7 linked regions of the Homo sapiens genome follow. The protein of the gene in region 2 purifies or fractionates together with the protein of the main gene of each other region. This does not show direct contact. Each region holds a gene or a part of one and is shown on either strand. Other genes may lie near its edges.

Region 1 (4,013 bases), on a different chromosome or scaffold from region 2:
AATGGCATGATCTGGGCTCACTGCAACCTCTGCCTCCTGGGTTCAAGCGATTCTCCTGCCTCAGCCTCTCAAGTAGCTGGGACTACAGGCACCTGCCAACATGCCCGGCTTTTTTTTTTTTTTTTTTGAGATGGAGTCTCACTCTGTCACCCAGGCTGGAGTGCAGTGGCGTGATCTCTGCTTGGCGTGATCTCTGCTTGGCGTGATCTCGGCTCACTGCTACCTCCGCCTCCTGGGTTCAAGTGATTCTCCTGCCTCAGCCTCCTGAGTAGCTGGGATTACAGGCTCACGCCACCACGCCCGGCTAATGCCCGGCTAATTTTTGTATTTTTGTAGAGACGAGGTTTCACCATGTTGGCCAGGCTGGTCTTGAACTCCCAACCTCAGGTGATCCTCCCGCCTCGGCCTCCCAAAGTGCTGGGATTACAGGCGTGAGTCACCGCGCCCGGCTTCGTTCTTTCTTGTCTCCATGTCTTTGTATGCTGTTCTCTTTGTCTAGACAGCCTTTTAACCTCTATTCCTGAACTCCACCCACCCTTCCAAACTCAGTAAAGTCTCTATCCTCTTTGAAGCCTTCCCTGACCAGCTACACTTCCTTTCTTTGTATCATTGTCTTTGCTTCATACACAGTTCTAGGATAGCTCATACTTTGCATACTGCAAACTTGATCTCCATTGGCCAGCCAGTGCCATTAGACTCCCAACTACTTCGGGGCAGTCACTGTCCTATACCCTGCTTCAATAAAAGGAAAATCAGCCCCTAGAACAGGACCTAGTACAACTAAGTGCACAATAAATACTTGTTAAATGAATGAATGAATTTCAAGACGCTTGAGACCACTGGTAAGAATTTTGGGTTTCCAAAACCCTCCCCTTCCCAACCCCCATTCGGTAAGAATGCTTTCGCATTAGCATCAGGTCCGAGGTTACTCATTAGAAACTGGGCAAAGCCGGAAGGCGGCCACTTTGCAGCAAAGAAGCCCTAGACCTTGGGAGTCAATCAGGCCAGCCCAGGCCGCACCACGGTCTCCTAGTTGACAGTTCGAGGGGCCTCGCGGGCCGCTTGCTTCGTCAGCTTACAGGGATCCCGCACGCCAGGTGAGCCCACACACTGAGCGGACATTGGGGCAGGCAGGCAGGCGCCGGGGGGCGGGGCCAGCGTCGCCCCGCCCCGTCCTGCCTCGCCCTGTTCGCGCGTCCGCTGTCCGGCCTCCGGTCACGTGACAGCAGCGCAGGTGAGCGCCGCTTCCGGGGTCGGGCGCCTGGATAGCTGCCGGCTCCGGCTTCCACTTGGTCGGTTGCGCGGGAGACTATGGCGTCCTCCTCGGTCCCACCAGCCACGGTATCGGCGGCGACAGCAGGCCCCGGCCCAGGTTTCGGCTTCGCCTCCAAGACCAAGAAGAAGCATTTCGTGCAGCAGAAGGTGAAGGTGTTCCGGGCGGCCGACCCGCTGGTGGGTGTGTTCCTGTGGGGCGTAGCCCACTCGGTGAGAACCAGCCCTAGACCCCCGCAGCCCTGTCCAAACCCCTCGGCTCCGAGGCGTCCCTGTTTCCAGGCTCCAGCCTCCGGAGCCCCACGCAGTGCCACTCCCCTCCCCCGGGTTGTCTTGGTCCCTGCCCACCAACCCCAGGTGTTCCCCCAGCAGGTTTTCTGACTGTGGACTTTTTTCTCCCCAACAGTTCTTTACTGCTCCACTCTAGTTCCACCTTCCCCCCGTGAAATCCAGCTCCCTGTGCTTTGACTCCTTCCTGCCATGTCTAGCTTCAGCCTCAGGCTACGCGGACTGGCCAGGACCGGGCGCAAGCGGGGAGGACATTAGGGGGAGTGGCTTTTTCTCGGGTGGTTGTTGGTGAGAGTGTAGGTGGAGGGTGAGGGGCCGAGGGGAGTAGATGGATGAAAAGGTTCTTTCACTTTGCTTTCCACCTTGCTTCCCAGCCCCGGTCCTTGGCTTTTGAATCTTGGTTTTGTCTCGGGGAAGCTCCAGGTTTCCTGGGCTTTCTAATCCTGCTTGTCCCTTCCTTTCCCTTCCAGAGGTACAGCATTTTAGAGAAGCTACCCCACCCTGAGCTAGAAGTTGCACACTCTCAGGACTTATGTATATATGCCTTTGGTCTTAACTGCATCCTTATCGCTGGCTAGAGCGATCGTGTTTGGTGTAGGTGGTGGCGATTGTTGACCAAAGAGAAGGCTGAGGGGCTCTGTTCCTGAGGTCACTATGGTGGTGAACTTTTGAAGCAGGAAACTGCTCTGGGAGTCAGGAGGAGGCCAAGGAGACCTCCATCCCCTTTCCTGAGGATACCTCAGCTGAAAGAAGCACAGCCATTGCCCATCTTCCGTCAGGTCTGGAGTGGGAGAAATGCAGTTATCTTGAATGTGACACGGAATATTTTCGAAATCAGCGTTCTTGAATATAGTCATGGCTAGGCTGTGGAGATGGAAGTTGTGAGGAAGAATACGCGTTTTGTCACATTTTTAATTTGTGGTAAAGAATTTCTTAACCAAAAATTAAGAATGTTGTTTGTGGCCAGTCGGATCTCTTTTGGATTTGTGGCTCTCTGGGTGGTAAGCTCTTAGTGAGTATTCAGTGGAAGGCACTTGGTATGGGGAAGGCTGATGGAGGTAGGGCTGCCTCTCATATGTACCTTCCAGGTGATTCATCCATTCCCTGTGGGATGCTTAACAGGGAGGGTTTTCCCTTGTTAAGGATTGGGGGAGTTACATGTAAGACCTACCTCAGCTTCACTAGGTATATATACTTTAGCCCCAGCACCCCACCCTCTGCCAACACACATCTACTTCAAGTGTTTGGAATGGAGAAATTCCTTGAACATATGTCTTAGTGATGATTCAGCTTGCTTAGCAGGTGGGGAGGAGGGGGCAGGAGGAGCTATAGCTGAATTTTAGGCTGGGAGTCTCAAGTGGCTTTTTTTTTTTTTTTAATCTGGAGGGATATGTTCTGTCCTCCTTTTCTACTGAGAACGGGAGGAGTTGGTTGCACTGCAGTGTGTGTGATTTAGGTTAGACTGCAGTTCATAGCCTCTGTGGAATGATCTAGTAAGGATAGGCAAGGCATTCATTTATTCAATTAATAGACATGTCAGGATCACTGTGTGCCAAACATTGTGCTAGTTAGACACCTGAAAGATGCAGACGACTAGAATGAGCCCTTGTTCTTGAAGAGCTCACAATCTAGATGGGAGAACTTACATAAACTAGTGATTAGAGTCATGCAGTAACAAAGGCAGGTGAAAGGTACTGTAGCAACACCAAGGAGAAAGCACGGCTCAGGATTTTTAAGTACTAGAGCTCCCTTTCTACCCTGAATTAGCAGACTGCAGATCCTGGGGGCCGAGGAGAGCATGTGATGCTTGTGTCCTTTGGGCTGTGGATTAGTTTGGCTTTAGGGAACAGACGCCTAATGAGCTCATATCCTCTGATTGCCTGCATTCGCTCTGAAATCAGCTGCTCTTCCTTTACCTTACACCTTAGACAGGTGGGGGCCTACTGCAAACAACTGGGTCAGAGTGGTCTAGGAAGACTGGTCCTGTTTGCAAAGAGATGCCTTTTGCAGGATATGGACATTTATCCTTTTTGCTGTGGTTGGCCCCACAGAATCCCATTAACACTCTTGTGCATTTTTAAAATGCCTTTTTTTTTCTTTTTCTAATGGAACATGTAGCTGCCTTGAGCTTGCAGAGTTTTTTTTTTTTTTTTTTTTTTTTTTTTTTTTCTAGAATTTCTCACAGCTTTAAAAATAGTCCTGAGTTGCTTACAGGGTTAGCCTAATATAAAATGACTGTTGTGAGCATGAAGTTCCATGGGGGTGGGCGTGTTGGGGGCTGTGTGTGAGGGTTGCTTACTGTAGTCCTTCTTGGGCAGCAGAAGGGTTAGACACATTCTCTCACTTCTGTCAAGCATATGCATAGCCAGTGTTTTTAAAGGAATGAGGTCTGAGTGGCCCTTGCATGACTGCTGCCCAGACACAGTGTATGGGTAGCTCTCCACACCCTTCTT
Region 2 (3,500 bases):
GCCTCCTGAGTAGCTGGGACTACAGGCGCCTGCCACCACACCCAGCTAATTTTTTTTGTATTTTTAGTAGAAGCAGGGTTTCACCGTGTTAGCCAGGATGGTCTTGATCTCCTGACCTCGTGATCCGCCCACCTCGGCCTCCCAAAGTGTTGGGATTACAGGTGTGAGCCACCATGCCAGGCCCCAACATTTTATATTTAGTTGTTTGCTTAATATTTCTGCCCTTCACCAGAGTGTTAGCTTCTTGAAGGCAGGAACTTCGTGTGTCTGGGTCACTGCCAAACCCCTCAGGCCCAGAACAGGCCCTGGCACATAATAAGTGCTTAGGTAGGCCGGGCGCAGTGGCTCACACCTGTAATCCCAGCACTTTGGGAGGCAGGAGGATCACCTGAGATCAGGAGTTCGAGACCAGCCTGACCAACATGGTGAAACCCCTTCTCTACTAAATGAAAAAAATTAGCCGGGCGTGGTGGCGGCCACCTGTAATCTCAGCTACTCAGGAGGCTGAGGCAGGAGAAACACTTGAAACTGGGAGGCCGAGGTTGCAGTGAGCCGAGATTGCACCATTGCACTCCACCCTTGGGCAACAAGAGTGAAAACTCCATCTCAAAAAAAAAAATTTTTTTAGGCTGGGCGCGGGGGCACATGCCTGTAATCCCAACACTTTGGGAGGCCAGGGTGGGTGGATCACCTAAGGTCAGGAGTTTGAGACTGGCCTGGCCAACATGGAGAAAACCCGTGTCTACCAAAAATACAAAAAAAATTAGCTGGGCGTTGTGGTGGGCACCTGTAATCCCAGCTACTCGGGAGGCTGAGGCAGGAGAATCGCTTGAACCTGGGAGGCAGAAGTTGCAGTGAGCCGAGATCACACCATTGCACTCTAGCCTGGGCAACAGAGCGAGAGTCTGTCTAAAAAAAAAAGATTTAAAAAGTGCATAGTTAATATTTGTTGAATAAAACTTGGGATGTATCATATCTTGCAGGTGCGTTAGGGCAGAAAAATTAGTGTTGCCTCCTTTGTCTGAGTCTGAGTTTCCTTATCAGTTAAGTTAAAGGGCTTATTTGAAATTCTCTGTTATGTGCTGAGATGGAAATGGTGTTAGAAGTTATAGGATGCGGCCGGGCGCGGTGGCTTATGCCTGTAATCCCAGCACATTGGGAGGCCAAGCAGATCACAAGGTCAGGAGATCGAGACCATCCTGGCTAACACGGTGATACCCCATCTCTACTAAAAATACAAAAAATTAGCTGGGCATGGTGGCGGGTGCCTGTAGTTCCAGCTACTTGGGAGGCTGAGGCAGGAGAATGGCATGCACCCAGGAGGCGGAGCTTGCAGTGAGCTGAGATTGCGCCATTGCACTCCAGCCTGGGCTACAGAGCGAGACTCTGTCTCAAAAAAAAAAAAAAAAAAGGAAGTTATAGGATACAGCATAGATAGGCAGGGTATTGGTGCTGTTATTCTCCTTTTTTTACCCCCTTTTATGCTCCTCTAGGTCATTTTTCCACCCCAAGAAAGAGGGTAAAGCAAAGAAGCCTGAGAAGGAGGCATCCAATAGCAGCAGAGAGACGGAGCCCCCTCCAAAGTATGTCACAGGGCTGGGATATGGTGAATTTTTTCCTTTAGCAGTCAGGATTGTCTTGGTTGCAAGTGTTCAAACCTAATGCAAAATGTCTTGGGGCCCAAAAAACTTTTTCAGCCAGGTGGCCAGAAGTCCAAGAGCAAGAGCAGCTGCAGGCACAGCTGGATCCAGGGCCTCGGAGTTGTCTGTACGTCTCTGTTTCTGCAGGTCTTGGCCTCGTTCTAGAACCAGACATTCTCCATAATGCAGAGAAGCTGGCCGCTGGCCACTGGCCACGTCTTGATGCTGTCTCATCTAAGTAGAAGACAACAGTACTCTTTTTTTTTTGAAATGGAGTCTCACTCTCACCCAGGCTGGAGTGCAATGGTGTGATCTCGGCCCACTGCACTCCAGCCTGGGCGACAGAGCAAGATTCCATCTCAAAAAAAAAAAAAAAAAGGCATCCCAATAGATGCTGGAGACCAATGGCAACCTTAGGCAGGGACTCCATTTGCTCCTCAGCATCACCCATCACAGGGCAGGCACTCTGGAGACTTCCAGAGATGTGTGATGGGTGGGTGAGTGGATGAGTGGGCGGGTGGATTAATGCACTGATGGATGAAATGATGAGATTTGCTGAGGAGACAACCAGAAAATGTTCATTGGATGCTTGAAAGGAAGGGAAGGAAACAGCAAAGAAACCAAAGTGTTTGCGGGCAGTGCCCCCACTCTGCCTGCTGTAGTCGCCCCTTTACACCCCCATTTCCCCACCTTCCAGGGCGGCACTGAAGGAGTGGAATGGAGTGGTGTCCGAGAGTGACTCTCCGGTGAAGAGGCCAGGGAGGAAGGCGGCCCGGGTCCTGGGCAGCGAAGGGGAAGAGGAGGATGAAGCCCTTAGCCCTGCTAAAGGCCAGGTAGGTCCCCATCACCCTGCCCATTTTTACCAGAAGAAACTAATTCCCATTAACCTTTGGAACAGAGTGCAGCAGCTGTTCAGGAGAATTCTGGAGAAATTGCCCGGGAGAGGTAGATGTGTTTCCTGGTTGTGTCGGGGGCAGACACAACCTGGTCCTAATTGCCCCTGCCCTAGGACCTCGGGTGGGCTCCTTCACCACGTTAGGTCTTGGATGCCTCAACTGTAACATGCAGCTCCTGGTAACACCTTCCTCATAGGGTGACTGGGAAGATGAAATGAGTCGATTTACATACAGATCTGAGAATAATGCCTGATGGTAAAACAAGGGCTCAAGGCCCAGCACAATGGCTTACGTCTGTAATCCCAGCACGTTGGGAGGCCAACGTGGGAGGATCACTTGAGGCCAGGAGTTCGAGACCAGGCTGGGCAACATAGCGAGACCCCATCTCTACAAAAAAATGTTTTAAAAATTAGCCAGGTGTGGTGGTGCATGCCTGTGGTGCTATCTCCTTGAGAGGCTGAGGCAGGAGGATCGCTTGAGCCCGGGTGTTCAAGGCTGCAGTGAACTGTGATTGTACCACTGTACTCCAGCCGGGGTGACAGAGCAAGACCTTGCTTCAAAAAAAAAAAAGCAAAAAAATAAGGGTTCAAAAGTATATCTAGCCTCTCCTGTGGTCAGAGGGCTTTTTAACTTCTCCAAATACATTGGACCACTCTCTTCCCCTGTTTAAGTCATTTAATGCTTGTTCATTGCTTTGTGGATGATGTCCAAAGCGTGGTGCTGCTTATTCTGTCAGTGGTGAGGTCAGGTCCTGTGACTCCCTGCCCAAACCCCCTGGTATTACCACCACAGGCCAAAGCCAGGCCTTGTGGAAACCTCCCAGGCCCCTCCTGCTGCTCCTCTCTTCCCCCGCCCATCACATCTGCAGCCGCATCCACAGCTCCTCCTCAGCTCGCTCCATCCTGGCTTCCCACACCCACCAGGTGCACTTCCACCTCTGGGCCACTACCTTCTTTCCCAGCCT
Region 3 (3,500 bases), 6.3 Mb from region 2:
GAGAAGTGCCCGAGGCATGCAGAAAGAAGAACATGTCAGCTGCAAGACCAGAGGCTGGTCATCCGGACGCCAAACCATCAGATATGCAGAAAATTAGGAAATTGCAGTCTTTCCCCTGTCTACATTCTCTTTCCAGAAGAGTGGTTCCCCCGACAACCACATGCACGGAGACTCTGGCCCTCTGAGCAAGGGAGTCCCCTATTCAAGCCTTGGGGTTTCTAGAACACCAGATTGTGGACATCAGCCCAGGGATCGTGCTGACTACCATGTTCTTTTACAGATGTGGAAACCGAGGCCTAGAGAGGGTCAGGGACTTGCCTGAGGTGACCCCGGCGGCCTCTGGGCATTTTGAGGTTTATTCTCGCATAGCTCCCTCACCTCATCAGCTTGTGGGGAGCCGATCAGAGATAGCTGTGGTCCCCTGGGCAGCTTCCTGTTGGCCTGTCTTAGAATTTTGCTATATTTGGGGGGTGTGAAGAGTGGATATAGATGTGTTAAAACTGTTTAAAGTGGAGAAGGAGGACCGGGCCTGGTGGTTCATGACTGTAGTCCCAACGCTTTGGGAGGCTGAGGCAGGAGGATAGCTTGAGCCTGGGAGGTTGAGGCTGCAGTGATTGCACCACTGCACTCCAGCCTGGGCGACAAGAGTGAAACCCTGTCTTGAAAAAAAAAAAAAAGTGGGGCCGGGCATGGTGGCTCACACCTATAATCCCAGAACTTTGGAGGCTGAGGTGGGTAGATCACTTGAGATCAAGAGTTCGAGACCAGCGTGGCCAACATGGTAAAACCCCGTCTCTACTAAAAATATGAAAATTGGCCAGGCGCAGTGACTCACGCATATAATCCCAGCACTTTGGGAGGCTGAGGCAGGTGGATCACCCGACGTCAGGAGTTCAAGACCAGCCTGGCCAACATGGTGAAATCCCATCTCTACTAAAATAGAAAAATTAGCCAGGCACAGTGGTACACACCTGTAATTCCAGCTACTCGGGAGGCTGAGGCAGGAGACTCACTTGAACCTGGGAGGTGGTGGTTGCAATGAGCCGAGATTGCACCATTGCACTCCAGCCTAGGCGGAAAAAAAAAAAAAAAATTAGCCAGGCCTGGTGGTAGGCACCTGTAATCCAAGCTACTCCAGAGGCTGAGGCAGGAGAATCGCTTGAACCCAGGAGGAGGTTGCAGTGAGCCGAGATCACGCCACTGCACTCCAGCCTGGGTGACAGAGCGAGACTCCATCTCAAAAAAGAAAAAGGAGAAAAAGTCCCACTCCCATTGGAGTGAGTTCATTTCCCAGATGAGAGCCCCCAGGAGCCAGGACAGGTTGGAGTCCCCACTGTCACCCAGAACAGGGGCGGGCACTCAGGAAATGCTTGACGAATGACAGAGTGAGCCCCACTTGTCCACCTGTTCTTTCCAAGCCCTCAGTATGCACAAGGCACCACCATCTGGGACACAGATGGATCAACCTACAACACCCCTCAACACACACAAACCCTTAAGCTGCTCACAGTCTTTCCAGGCAGTGGAGTGTAGTAGAGACAGGCTGCCTGGATTCGAATCCTAACTTTGCCACTTAGTAGCTATGTGATTTTGGGTTTTATTTATTTATTTATTTATGAAACAGTCTCGCTCTGTGTCACCCAGGCTGGAGTGCAGTGGCACAATCTCCACTCACTGCAACCTCCATCTCCTGGGTTCAAGCAGTTCTCCCTGCCTCAGCCTCCCGAGTAGCTGGGATCACAGGTGCCCACCACCACACCCGACTAATTTTTTTATTTTTAGTAGAGACAGGGTTTCGCCATGTTGGCCTGGCCGGTCACAAATTCCTGACCTCATGTGATCCACCTGCCTTGGCCTCCCAAAGTGCTGGGATTACAGGTGTGAGCCACTGTGCCTAGCCTAGTTGTGCGACTAAGCTTGACTAAACTTCTTGAGCTCCGTTTTCTCATCTGTAAAATGGGGATAATGACGGTCCCTATGATTGAACACGTTAATGCATGTAGAGGGTGTAGAGCCGTGTCTGGTATACACTAAGCCGTCAGTATAGACAGTAGTAGTAGTTGTTGTCATTATTGCCGGGAGGAGACCATGATGAAGAACCACAAAGGACCATAGCACAGGATGGAAAATTAGAAAATGCTCATGGCAGCCCCAGGGAGCCTGCAGGGGAACCCAGGGCCTGGCTTTAGGGGTGGAGGTCAGGGAGTGCTTCCCAGAGGAAGTGGCAGTTGAGTCCCACAGCCATAGGATGGCCAGGAGGTGAGGAAGGCCCTTTTCAAAGGGAGAGTGTGGTTTGAGGCAGGGTGAGGGAGCGGAGAGTCATGCTGTGTGTCTCCCCCAGCTTTGCTGTCTGCATGCCGACATGCTGGGCTCACTGGGCCCCAAGGAGGCCAAGAAGGCCTTCCTGGACTTCTACCACAGCTTCCTGGAGAAGACAGCGGTGAGAGACCTTCAAGCTGCCCCAACCCTGCAATCCCTGTTTGGGCCTGCAGAGTCACCATGCGGTCCCCAGCCTCTGCCCTGAGGGCAGCTGCTGACCCAGGCCTTCCCCAGCACCCTCGCTTAGACCAGGGTTCCTGGCAGTCCTCCCGGCCTGCATCTCAGCACACCAAGTCCTCCTCTTCACCCCATTCTCTCTCTTGAGCAGGTTCTCCGGGTGCCGGTCCCTCCCAACGTCGCCTTTGAACTTGGTAAGGAGAAGGATGGGATGAGGGAGAGGTGTCTAGCGGGGACCACACCTCCCAGGAGGCCAAGGGGAGGGAGGCCGCACTCCCATGCTCTGCTCGGACAGCCGAGATTCATTCATTCCTTCTTGGCAGCGGCCTCAGGACGTGTGGCTGTTGGAGTCCAAGGGTGGGTGGGGACCGTGGTCCAAGCCACCAGGGAGCTGGACCCTAGCCCCCATGTGTGTCCCTGCAGACCGCACTAGGGCTGACCTCATCTCCGAGGATGTCCAGCGGCGGTTCGTGCAGGAGGTGGTGCAAAGCCAGCAGGTAGCCGTGGGCCGGCAGCTGGAGGACTTCCGTTCCAAGCGGCTCATGGGCATGACGCCCTGGGAGCAGGAGCTGGCCCAGCTGGAGGCTTGGGTTGGGCGGGACCGAGCCAGCTACGAGGCCCGGGAGCGGCACGTGGCGGAGCGGCTGCTCATGCACCTGGAGGAGATGCAGTGAGTAGGCCAGCCCTGGTGGGAGCGTCGCCCCTCCCCAGCACAAGGGCACCCGTGCTACCTCTGGCATGTTCCATCCCGTTTGCAGGTTCCCTCTTCAGGGTCAGAGTTCATTTCTTGGCACTGGGGGTCTTCCTCTACCCTGGTGTTTTAACTCACCTTGAATCCGAGTCTTCCCTTTCCAGCTTTGGGGTTCCCTTGTCATTTCTGGGTCTTGTCCATGATCTGGCACTTGGATCCCATCCTCCTGGATGAGAGACCTCCCTCCCTCTTATGACAGTCCTTCCCAATCCCTTCCACAGTGTCCCCTCTCTGTCTCTCTTCCCCCTGCCTA
Region 4 (2,176 bases), on a different chromosome or scaffold from region 2:
TGATCTGTCATGCACCGTCTGCCATGATACTGTGTGAGGATGTGTTCTTCTTCTTAAACATTAAATCAAGAAAGAATCAACAGTGGACCCAGTAAATAGCAGATCAGCCTAGGATAAGATGCCCTAGAAGATGGTGAAGGGAAGTCTCAGAACTACTGTTCTTCAGCAGGCAGCGAAGACACCTGATCCATATTGGAGTGGTGGGATGCGAGCTTCAGGAAGGGATGCCACAAGGAAAAGTGGAAGGGATGATGACTGTCTTCAAGAGGTTACAGGTCTTTAAGAATTTACACGTGAATTGGAGATAAATACAGAGAAAATGAAACACATCAGTAATTCAGTAGTTACCAAGCCCAGAAAGACCAAGTCATACCATGTAGTAAATATAACCAAGGTGCACCAAGGCATTCAACTGTGACTAGTATTAATGGCGTAAAAAGTAATGCCAGCGCTGGAGACTGGCTTAACAACAACAAACACCACTTCATCAGGAGGATGGGTCGGGGCAGGTGCTATGTAAGTGGTAAAACAGCTGTTTGTATCCTTCACTGAAGAATTTATTAGATTTTTATCTAAAATTATGAAGTAGGCCAGGCACGATGGCCCACTCCTGTAATCCCATCACTTTGGGAGGCTGTGGCGGGCGGATCACTTGAGGTCAAGAGTTCGAGACGAGCCTGGCCAACGTGGTGAAACCCTGTCTCTACTACAAATACAAAAATTAGCCAAGTGTGGTGGTGGGTGCCTGTAATCCCAGCTACTTGGGAAGCTGAGGCAGGAGAATTGCTTGAACCCAGGAAGCAGAGGTTGCAGTGAGCCGAGATCATGCCACTGCACTCCATTCTGGGTGACAGAGCTGGACACCCTCTCAAAAAAAAAAAGTAAATAAAATTATGAAAAGCATGTTATTTAGAAATAGGCTAAATACCAGAAGAAGCTGCTGTGTGAGTCAAAAGTGACTCCTTCCAGAACTTGGGAATGGGAGGAGGAAGGGGAGAGAGACAGCTCCAGAGGAGTCAGTTACATGGCTTCCTCCCAGGCCACTCCTAGAGTCGTGCACTAGGTGTGCCCTAGTTACAAACCTTGTCCTGTCAGTATTTGACTTTTTAAATGATGCATACGTATTGCTTTGATAAAAACAGAAACAAAGATTGTTCTGAAATTAGTAACATCCGTAACTTCAAAGATGATTATTACAGGTGACAAAGGTAATCAAAAGTTATTTTAAACTTTTGTCTTTAAGCATTGAAATGATATTACTGTCTGTCACGACAATCTTTTCAATTTGGAATTCTTCTTTTTTTCTTTTTTTCAGTTTGTATGCCAGAAGAAGGGTTTAAAGGTAAGTTACATTTGTCATGTTTTGTTCATGAATGTCAGAGTCATCCTGTAATTTTCTGTTAAAGCGAAGGCTATAATTTGATTTTAAATTTTAATCCAATCTGAGTCTCATGACTGAAATTAATTTTAGTTAAATGCATTTCTTACTCAAGCTTCTTCATTATCTTTTTCAACACTCAGGCCTCAAATGGGGCCTCAGCTGGGGCTTTTGTGTTAGAACTGTTTCTTGCCAGATGTCCATTTGGCCTTCCCTTTCTCATTTTATGGGAGGTTGGGAAATTAGCTAGTGGCATTTCAAGATTTATTTTTAACCTTTTCCCAGTTCTTCCTATCAAGTCCCCTCCTAGAGCAAAACAGTGTGTAACTATTAAGAATTAGTGGCACAAGAATTTGTCAGGTTTTATCAAGTCCAGTGAAAAGATTTAATTAATCACTTAGCATTAAGGCATTTGTTGGATTATTACTTCAAGAGGAGACACGGTGGTGCTCGTACTACATCTGGGCCATGTAGTTGTGCACACCGATAATATTCAAGAAGTCATCAAATACAGACCTCTGACGTTTTCGGATTTTCCTGTTGCTGTCTTGATTCTTTGCTGGCCACTCCAGAAGCCCCTGGCAGGTTGTGATTTTCTAAGGAATGACTTTGAATCACATACCAGCTATTCCTTGCTAAAGCAAATGAGAGACAAATCTACTGGCCAAAATAAAGTCTTCCTCTTGCTGCAGCTGTGTTGTCTGCATGCTACCATTACAAAGGGACTCCTGATGGGGTCAAAACAAAGCAAAAAACGTCTTTATGAAAAATGGTCATTGGCCGGGCATGGTGGCTCAC
Region 5 (3,500 bases), on a different chromosome or scaffold from region 2:
AGATGTTTGGGATATGGGATATAGGGGCTTGCATGTGCAATTTTTCCAGGGTTGTTTTGAGTTTGTTCAGAAGTAGTTAAGTTCCTGTAGTGTTACAGTAGATCATTTCAATCCAAGAACCCATAAAGGCTTCAAGGGACCCTGAGATATTGTTAGTCAAACCTTTTCTTTCCAAGCACCTTCATAGCTGTTTCTTTTTGTCTTCCGAGAAAGATTCTTCATCTGAATGGTGAAGGATTGAACTTACATGGAGGCAGTCTTTGAATTTTGGTTGGCTGCTGCTTTTCAAGCCCATTTTAAGTTTATTAATCTCAATTCTCTATTAAAAGAGTAATAAGTAACTTGGAATGTCATGTATAATTTTCATTTTGTTTGGTTGTATAATTTTATTGAACCATTGCAAAAATATATAACTCAACATAGTTCCAATTAAGATTTAATGTCTTTTCCATCCAGCTCTCTTTGGCAAGTATCTCTTATATTATACATTATGAGAGTTATCTTTCCAATCCAGAGATAATACGATCTTGCCTTTAAGTTACTAGAAGATTGCTAGATTTACTATCCTAGAGTAATGAGCAGAGAGGAAGGCACGAGCTCACACTTGCTTAGCTTTTTAGAATCAAAACTTTCCCTTTTTAACAATAGCAAGAGTTGCCTTTTTTCCCTTTTTTCCCATAAAACAGTAAAAATTTTTTATTAAGCATTATAAGTTGCATTCAGTAGCCTTCAGATATGCCACACCACAATCCATTGGCAGACCATCCAACCCAGCAGCAGTTTGTTCTTGTACAATCCATGAGTTCGGGCAAAACTCCCTTCAACTTACAGTTAAGATCCTACTTAGCTCTTGCGGGCAGGGATTGGGGAATTAGACCTCATTTCTGATCACTAATGTGGTGAAAAGCATCAGAAGTATTTGAAAATGATAAGAAGTGATTCTGATTTTAAAGTACATTGTTTCGAAACATTAACAGAAACATCAAAATGATAGGAGTATACCTGCTTCTATTAAATTCTTGTTGGGAAAGTTCTTAAGAACAAGCAGTTTCCTGAATAGCAAGAGTTTCTACAGATGGATTGCATTTGGTTGTTTATTTATAGTTATGCAAGTTAACTAGTAGTTTAGATATGAAGAGGGCATAATGGAAAATAGTATGAATGGGTAATTTTAATAGCTTTGCTAACAGTGTTGGATGTATGTTTTTCACTGCTTGTTTTGTAAGTTTATTAAACGTTAGCCATATCAAAATTTCTTAGGATCTAATTTCAGGTGGTGCTTATTTGCTGTAAATTTCCAGCAAACTTTCCATGCCAAGGTTATTTATGATGTGAAATGAGAAAAATCAACTTCCTGCAGTTTTGATGCCAAATGTTTCTTTGGAAAGCTACCATGTAATTTCCTCTCTGCTTGAACATTTTGGTTTTTAGGGAGCTGAAAATTGCTTGGAAGGCCTTATATTTGTAATCACAGGCGTGCTGGAGTCTATTGAACGAGATGAGGCCAAGTCTCTAATTGAACGTTATGGGGGAAAAGTAACAGGAAATGTCAGCAAGAAAACAAATTATCTTGTCATGGGTCGTGATAGTGGACAGTCCAAGAGTGATAAGGTGGGTACTGCTTTGTTCTCAACACCATGACACCTCCTGCCTGCCTTGGCACACTCTTGATGTGATTTGCCCTTTACTCAGAGTTAAATGAAGGAAAGAAATAGAAAAGTAATTTCTTGCCTACATTATTTCTTCTCCACAGAAGTGTTATTGGCTCTGACACCAGGATTTTGGTTTTCCAATGGAAGGCATAGTTCCTGTTTACTTGACTTTTTTTTAGTGTATTTAAGTTTAAGTCTTTTTTTATTTTTGAAGATAGAAACAAATGCAGTTTTCTTTTTCTTCCAGTCCGAAGTATTCCTATATATGCCACTGTATACACCATCTTAGGTTTTTTTAAATTGGTGTTTTTAGAAAAAGAATCAGCGGCCTGTTGGGTAGGATTGTGTTTAGCTCCAAACAGCAGAATATCTGATTAACCGTGGATTAAACAGCTGCTAATTTTTCTCACAAGAATTCTGGAGGTATTGCTGGGATAGTTCGGCATCTCAACGATGTGGTTCCTCCATCTGTCCTTATTGTGTTAACTTTTGTCCTCATGCATGTTGCCTTGTGGTTGCAAGGTAGTTGCAGCTCTAGGCATTTAAATTCTTATTCAAGGCAGGAAAAGGGAACAGTGGCAAGTATGTCATAAGAGCTGTGACTGGCCTGACGAGAGTTTTCCCAGAAACATGTCTTATAGAATTTCACATAAGGCTCATTGGCCAGAGCTGTCACCTGGCCACTCAGAGCTGTATGGGAGGTTGGGAAGAACCAAGACGTTTCTGGTTGCCTTGGACCAGTCATCATTCATCACTTGAAGAAGGACACATTGGAGTTCCATCAGCAGGGAAGAAGGTGGGGGAAATGTCTGCCATATGCATTAAATATGGGAGAAGGTATGAAGAGCTGGTCTTAGGCCCTAGTGGCCATTGCCCCTTTCTAGGGGAGGAAAGGTAAAGCAGTCCACAAAAGTAGAAATGGACCACTTCCCATGCCAACCTGCTACTCTTAGGGAATGTATCTGTTATTTTCTTTCTTTTCAATGTTACTTTTTCAATGAATGTGCTATTTTTTGTTTTTCTTTTTTAATTCCAGTGTTATCTTAATTTACGAATGTGGTTTTTCACCTACTAATAGGCCCTAGAATTTTTTTTTTTGTAAGAGAAGGGAATGGTAGGATGCAGGATGCAGTTTTGATGGTTTACATTTTTAATCAACAGGCCGCAGCCTTGGGGACAAAAATTATTGATGAAGATGGCCTGTTGAATCTGATTCGGACTATGCCAGGCAAGAAATCCAAGTATGAAATAGCAGTTGAAACTGAGGTTCGTATAAAATGAATGTGATTTAAGTTGGTGTATATTAACTTTTTAATTTCATAGACATATGTCTTGGGTGGATACAGGCTTGTTGGCTGAAAGATTAACATCCCTGTCTACCACAAATGGACCACCTTAGTTCCTTTTGAGCTGGAAGACTCTGCTTCAAGATGTCTACTTTGTTGTTTTTCCTTATCTTTGTCAGGGAATATGAGTAGAGAAAGGACAGTATATTGCATATAACATATCTACTTATCAAACTTTCCTTATTTTCCATATTACTATTATTACTACTATTTTTTAATTTTTTGAGACAGAGTCTAGCTCTGTCCCTCAGGTCGGAGTGCAGTGGTGTGATCTCGGATCACTGCAACTTCTGCCTCCTGGGTTCAAGCGATTCTCCTGCCTCAGCCTCCTGAGTAGCTGGAACTACAGATACCTGACACCACGCCTGCTAATTTTTATATTTTTAATAGAGACGGAGTTTCACCATGTTGGCCAGGCTGGCCTTGAACTCCTGACCTCAAGTGATTCACCCACTTCAGCGTCCCAAAGTGCTGGGATTATAGGTGTGAGCCACTGTTCCCG
Region 6 (3,500 bases), 2.2 Mb from region 2:
TTTTTTTGAGACGGAGTTTTGCTCTGTTGCCCAGGCTGGAGCGCACTGGCGCAATCTCGGCTCACTGCAACCTCTGCCTCCTGGGTTCAAGCGATTCTCCTGCCTCAGCCTCCCGAGTAGCTGGGATTAGAGGCACCTGCCACCACTCCTGGCTAATGTTTTGTATTTTTAATAGAGACAGGGTTTCACCATGTTGGCCAGGCTGGTCTTGAACTCCTGACCTCGTGATCCGCCCGCCTCGGCCTCCTAAAGTGCTGGGGTTACAGGCGTGAGCCACCGCGCCCAGCCAATTCATTGCATTTTTATTATTCCACCTCTTGCTCCCATAAGCTTGAGAGACAGAAATAAGGAAAGAGGTCAAGAGACAGAAACAGAACAGTGACAGAGGGAAGCGGCTGAGAGAGAAAAGACAGAGACACAGGATTGGTAAGAGGCAGCCCCAGGGGAGGGCCAAGCTGTGCTCTCTTGGCCTGGCCTCTGCTTCAGGGCTAGAGCCTGATGTCCACACAGCCACCCCTTTCCACCAAGGAGGCTGGGGAGGCAGCCGGGGACTGTGAAAGGCAGAGGGGAGTTGGGAGCATGCAGTGAGCGATTCACTTTGTGCAAAGAAAGGTCTGGCTCTTGCCTGGCTCCTGGTAGTCTAAGCCCCTAGAATATCCCGCCTGATAACAGTGTCTCTGTTCCAGCCTGGGCAACATGGCGAGACCCTATCTCTACAAAAAATAACAAAAATAGGTGGCACGTGCCCGCAGTCCCAGCCACTTGGGAGGCTAACGTGGGAGGCTCACCTGAGTCCCGGAGGTTGAGGCTGCAGTGAGCCACGATTGTGCCACTGCGCTCCAGCCTGGGTGAGAGAGTGAGACTCTGTCTCAAAAAAAAAAAAAAAAAAGGTGTTTGTGTACCTGGGACTTTGAACCACACCAGGTAGTTGACACTAACATGGTTTATGGTAGGGCCCTGGGCCATGCAGTATCAGTTTGACCTCTGGGGGTTGCTGAGGGGCCTGGGGATGATGGAGTCACTAAGGCCAGTCACAGGGTGCTCCATGCCTATAGGACTGACACCCAAGAAAAACCCTGGACCCCAAAGCTTGGGTGAGAGCCTCTGGTTGGCAATGCTGCATGTGTGCAGGCACGCATCAAAACTGGGAGGAAGGAGGGCCAGCCTGGCAACTCTACTGGGAGAGCACAACTGGAAGACACGCCTGGTCCCTCCTATACCCTGCCCTGTGCACCTCTTTCTTTTGCTGAGTTTAATCTGTGTCCTTTTGCTGTATTAAATCATAACCATGAGAACCAGCTTTTCTGCTCTCTGAGTACTTCTAGTGAATCACTGAACCTAAGTGGTCTTTGGGACCCCCAGAACTGCGGGTGGGTGGGTGTGTGCAAAGGCCCCACCCACTGAGAATTCATCCAAGCCTTCCACCCAGAGCCCTGTGAAAAGTGGCGCAGTGCCCAGCCAGAGAGGGAGCTCCCCGTGGCTAGAGGTAACCAAGCAGAGCAGCACAACTACTGGCCTGGAATGGGCCAAGACTCAAGTCCCAGGGGAGAAGGCTGGACAGGAAGACCCTTCCGAGGCCCTCATATGCCAGGAGCTGGGGCACTGACCCCAGCTTGGCAATCTCGGAAACTCAGGCCCTCTGTGGTTTCAAAGAATCTGTTTTTCTGTTCAAGCAGCAGAGCTGCCGTGGGTAGGCAGACCGGGACGCTGCCGTGGGGACGGTGAATGGCTTCCCTCCCCACGTCCCTTGGCCTCTGTGTGAGCGTCGCCTATTGAGAGGGGTGAGTCCCGCCCAGCCCCATCACTCCCCGACAGTCCGCACCTCCTGCTTTATCCGGCTGCAAAGCTCGTAGCGCCACTTGTGTCCTAAACACGTTTACACAGACCTGTCAGTGTCCCCACTGGGCTGCAAGATGACAGGGACAGGAGCTCTCATCCATTTTGTTCCCCTCTGTATCCCCAGGGCACAGAGTGAGCCCTGACCACAGTGTGTGCTCAGTAGGCATTTGCTGAGTGAAGGAATGGACCAATTGCTCAAGCCACATTGGCATCCTCTCTCTAGAAGGCCAGTGAGTTGGGGTGCCCAGTCCTCTGGATACAGGTCCCCCACATGGAGCCCTGGTCTCCTACACAGGGGGCCCACCTGCCCCCAGTTGCCTTCCAGGGGCCCGAGTGCCCACCTGTGAGATCTCCAGGCACGGCAACTTGCCCACCTGGGCGCCAGTGAAGCCGTATACGGAGTTGGCGCTCACCTTCAGCGCCAGCTGCCGTCCATCCAGGACCTGGCGCCGGAGGGGGTCTGTCTCCTTGGCCAGCTCGGCCTTGGCCCTGCGAGGGAACACGGGGAAAGCACACTCAGGCGGCACCTGGGCATTGGTCAGGGCTCCTTTCTGGAAGTGAGTGCCATGTACGGTTGGGCGTACTGTGCACTGCACAGAAGCTTCTGGCCAAGGGGGCAAAAGGAAGCTGCCAGGAGGGGATGCCTTGTGCTAATTCACGCACAGCTGAGGGCAGGGTGGCTGGGCAGCCCTGGGGTGTCCCAGTGAGGGACAGGGATTGCCCAGAGGCCCCAACAGGTCTGAGCTCCAAGCAGGCGATCTCCAGGGCTCACCTCTTCCGGGCACTGAGCAGGTTCTCCAGGATCTGGGGCAGCAGCCCCTTCCGCACTGAGGTCTTCACAAACTCGTCCCCGGTGGGGGTCCTGATGAACTGATCCTCAGTCAGGCTGGGTTGGAAGATGTTGGGGTGACTGCCGGCCACCCTCCTGCTCCAGCCCACCTCTGCCCTACGGTCCTGGCCTTGGCCATGAGCACACGCAGGCCCCTCAAGCACCCCTCCACTCCCTACTATCTCTGGGCCTGTGCCTATGCCCCCCACCAGACTGAGCCCCCCAAGGGAAGGCCCAGATGGGCCTCGGGGGACACATGCTGAATTGGGCACTATACCCCAGTTTCTGTGCAGTCCCGGGCCGAAGGAGCGTGGTGTAACACAGGTTGTGGGCCATCATGATGGACGGGTACAGCGAGGAGAAGTCCAGGGTGGCGATGGGGACGTCGTAGTACCTGGGAGGGGAGCAGCCGCGGCCGGGAGTCAGGGCTAGGAGTTCCCATGCCGCCCCCGCCCTGTCTTGTGGCCTCACCCTTTAAAAAAAAAAAATCATTCATTGGCTGGGAGCAGTGCTCGCTCCTGCAATCCCAGCACATTGGGAGGCTGAGGCAGGAGGATCGCTTGAACTCAGGAGTTTCAGATCAGCCTGGGCAACATGGCAAAACCCTATCTCTACAAAAAAATTTTAAAAATTAGCCAGGTGTGGTGGTGCACGCCTGTGGTCCCAGCTACTCAGGGGCCTGAGGCAGGAGGATTGCTTGAGCCTAGGAGGTGGAGTAAGCCAAGATCATGCCACCGCACTCCACCCTGGGTGACAGAGTGAGACCCTGTGTCAAAAAAAGAAAAAGAAAAAGAAAAATAATATATATAATTAATCTACTATTTTATTTTAT
Region 7 (2,299 bases), on a different chromosome or scaffold from region 2:
GTCAGTTGGCTTCTGCAGTTAACATTCCAAAAAACCCAAGTGGAAGGTACAGGGCTTTTTATGACCTAGCTTTGGAAGTCATACAGCATCACTTATGAGCTAAGTAACTTAATCTCTCTGTGCTTTAGTTTTCTCTTCTATAAATGGAGATAACTATACATACTTCATAGGACTGTTTTGAGGATTCAATCAATTAATATAGATATAAGGTCCTTAGAACAGTGTCCAGCATCTATTAATGCTCAATAAATGTGACCTATTATTGGCCAGGCATGGTGGCTCACACCTGTAATCCCAGCACTTTGGGAGGCCAAGGCGGGTGGATCACTTGAGGCCAGGAGTTCGAGACCAGCCTAGCCAACACTGAAACTAAAAATAGAAAAAATTAGCTGTGTGTGGTGGCGCACTCCTGTAGTCTCAGTTTCTTGGGAGGCTGAGGCATGAGAATCATTTGAACCCGGCAGGCAGAGGTTGCGGTGAGCCGAGACTGCACCACTGCACTCCAGCCTAGGTAACAGCAAGACTCTCTCTCAAAAGAAAAAAAAAAAGTTACCTATTATTAATAGCTTTATGTCCTCAGTGTCATTTATCATTTAGTCTTTTAGAATTGGAGAATAACTTTTATAAAGGGTATAAGTAGGACATTACTTTCTCATTCATTAAGTTCTTCTATCAAATAATTATTAAGCACTATGTGCCAGATGCTTTTCTAGACAGTGAATATGATGCAATTAATAAAGATTTAATTAAATTCAAATTTTTACTAGGTTTTAGTTGGTCTCTGATTATAGGTTTGTGATATGTGCAAATATTGGTCTCATACTTTGTTATTTTTGTTCTTCAGTTTCATACATATTTTGACTAGAACATCTGAAACTAGATTAAATAAAGGAGTTGGCCATTAATTTTGAATCACATTTATTTTAATGAAAACTAACTTTTATTTTTAGGAGTATCTAACTATCAAGTTGAAGAAGATATAGGAAAGTTGAAGTCTTGTCTCACTGGCTTCCTTCAGGAATATGGTTTATCTGTAATGGTGAAAGATGATTATGTCCACGAATTGTGAGTATTTTTTAGGGTATCTAGGAGATGATTCCACACCTGTCATAAGGCTAATCAAAATTCATGTCTCTGTGGTCTCCTTTAGTTGCCGATATGGAGCTGCTGAGCCACATACCATTGCTGCATTCTTGGGGGGTGAGTTCCATATATGAGAAGACTCACCTGTTGTTACATAGTACAGTTACTATTTTAATACAAAGTTTTGTCGTCTAGCTATTTTAATTAGGGAGGTCAGTGAAGCAGGATGTTATATTTCTTTCTTTTTTTTTTTTTTGAGACGCAGTCTCACTGTTTTGCCCAGGTTGGAGTGTATTGATGCCATCATAGCTCGCTGCAACCTCAAACTCCTGGGCTCAAGTGATCTCTCGCCTCCGCCTCCTGAATAGCTGGGACTACAGGCATGTGCCAGTAAGCCTGGCTAATTTTTCAATTTTTTGTAGAGACAGGGTCCCACTATGTTGCTCAGGTTAGGATATTTATTCAGTTGCCCCTATACTGGTCTCCCTGCCTTCCATCTCTCCCACTGCCATCCAACTTAAACTCCTTAAGAGTCATTAATCCTTCTAAAGCATAGCTCTGATTGTGTCCTTTTACTAACCCTCTGCCCCACCAATATACATAACACTCTACAACAGTCCTCCAAGCAAGTCCAAGGACTTTGGCTTGACGTTAAAAAACCCTGTGTTTTGGTTCCACTCGGCCTTTCCAGCCTTGGTTTTATCATATTACTTGCTTTCCCCCCAGGATGCCCTTTGATTTCCTGCTCCTAGATCTTTGCTCCTCTGTGCCTATTTGCCTTAAAAATATGTTTTTCTGCATGTCCAAAACCTATATGTTCTTCAAGACCCAACTCAAAAATGACATGTCTTTCATAAAAGCTCCCTTTACTTCCCTCCCTCACTCTACTTCCCCCTTGTCTTAGTCAGTTTGGGCTGCTGTAACAGAATATCATAGACTTATAAACAATAAAAATTTGTCACAGAGTTCTGGAGGCTAGAAGTCTGGGATCAGGGTGCCAGCATGGTCAGGTCTGGTGAGCGCCCATTTCCTGGTTCATAGGCAGCTCTCTCTTCTGTGTTCTCACATGGTGAAAAAAAAAATGGCAAGAGAAGTCTCTGGGGTCTCTTCTTAGGGCACTAATCCTATTCATGAAGGTTCTACGCTCTTGACCTAATCACCTACCAAAGGCCCTATCCTCATACAATTACACTGGGGGTTAGGATTTCAACATATG

What was found.
Region 1: the proteins of LIG1 (region 2) and PIP4K2C fractionate together in Homo sapiens (co-fractionation; one large-scale study listed by BioGRID). This does not show direct contact.
Region 3: the proteins of LIG1 (region 2) and ARHGEF1 fractionate together in Homo sapiens (co-fractionation; one large-scale study listed by BioGRID). This does not show direct contact.
Region 4: the proteins of LIG1 (region 2) and USP48 fractionate together in Homo sapiens (co-fractionation; one large-scale study listed by BioGRID). This does not show direct contact.
Region 5: the proteins of LIG1 (region 2) and RFC1 fractionate together in Homo sapiens (co-fractionation; one large-scale study listed by BioGRID). This does not show direct contact.
Region 6: the proteins of LIG1 (region 2) and POLD1 fractionate together in Homo sapiens (co-fractionation; one large-scale study listed by BioGRID). This does not show direct contact.
Region 7: the proteins of LIG1 (region 2) and NAE1 fractionate together in Homo sapiens (co-fractionation; one large-scale study listed by BioGRID). This does not show direct contact.

The regions. Positions count from the first base shown.
Region 1 is NC_000012.12:57,589,979-57,593,991, forward strand, and holds the start of PIP4K2C (phosphatidylinositol 5-phosphate 4-kinase type-2 gamma), read left to right. Parts: upstream 1-1,213; 5' UTR 1,214-1,311; coding exon 1,312-1,485; intron 1,486-2,241; exon of another isoform or gene 2,242-2,339; intron 2,340-4,013. UniProt on the Homo sapiens protein: Phosphatidylinositol 5-phosphate 4-kinase with low enzymatic activity. May be a GTP sensor, has higher GTP-dependent kinase activity than ATP-dependent kinase activity. PIP4Ks negatively regulate insulin signaling through a catalytic-independent mechanism.
Region 2 is NC_000019.10:48,160,345-48,163,844, reverse strand, and holds part of LIG1 (DNA ligase 1), read left to right. Parts: intron 1-1,493; coding exon 1,494-1,583; intron 1,584-2,337; coding exon 2,338-2,473; intron 2,474-3,500.
Region 3 is NC_000019.10:41,889,684-41,893,183, forward strand, and holds part of ARHGEF1 (rho guanine nucleotide exchange factor 1), read left to right. Parts: intron 1-2,341; coding exon 2,342-2,440; intron 2,441-2,647; coding exon 2,648-2,690; intron 2,691-2,919; coding exon 2,920-3,166; intron 3,167-3,500. UniProt on the Homo sapiens protein: Seems to play a role in the regulation of RhoA GTPase by guanine nucleotide-binding alpha-12 (GNA12) and alpha-13 (GNA13) subunits. Acts as a GTPase-activating protein (GAP) for GNA12 and GNA13, and as guanine nucleotide exchange factor (GEF) for RhoA GTPase.
Region 4 is NC_000001.11:21,679,974-21,682,149, reverse strand, and holds part of USP48 (ubiquitin carboxyl-terminal hydrolase 48), read left to right. Parts: intron 1-1,315; coding exon 1,316-1,342; intron 1,343-2,176.
Region 5 is NC_000004.12:39,310,863-39,314,362, reverse strand, and holds part of RFC1 (replication factor C subunit 1), read left to right. Parts: intron 1-1,431; coding exon 1,432-1,611; intron 1,612-2,813; coding exon 2,814-2,918; intron 2,919-3,500. UniProt on the Homo sapiens protein: Subunit of the replication factor C (RFC) complex which acts during elongation of primed DNA templates by DNA polymerases delta and epsilon, and is necessary for ATP-dependent loading of proliferating cell nuclear antigen (PCNA) onto primed DNA.
Region 6 is NC_000019.10:50,408,347-50,411,846, reverse strand, and holds part of POLD1 (DNA polymerase delta catalytic subunit), read right to left. Parts: intron 3,141-3,500; coding exon of another isoform or gene 3,063-3,140; coding exon 2,946-3,062; intron 2,726-2,945; coding exon 2,612-2,725; intron 2,329-2,611; coding exon 2,181-2,328; intron 1,907-2,180; exon of another isoform or gene 1,823-1,906; intron 1-1,822. UniProt on the Homo sapiens protein: As the catalytic component of the trimeric (Pol-delta3 complex) and tetrameric DNA polymerase delta complexes (Pol-delta4 complex), plays a crucial role in high fidelity genome replication, including in lagging strand synthesis, and repair.
Region 7 is NC_000016.10:66,804,678-66,806,976, reverse strand, and holds part of NAE1 (NEDD8-activating enzyme E1 regulatory subunit), read left to right. Parts: intron 1-950; coding exon 951-1,065; intron 1,066-1,150; coding exon 1,151-1,200; intron 1,201-2,299. UniProt on the Homo sapiens protein: Regulatory subunit of the dimeric UBA3-NAE1 E1 enzyme. E1 activates NEDD8 by first adenylating its C-terminal glycine residue with ATP, thereafter linking this residue to the side chain of the catalytic cysteine, yielding a NEDD8-UBA3 thioester and free AMP.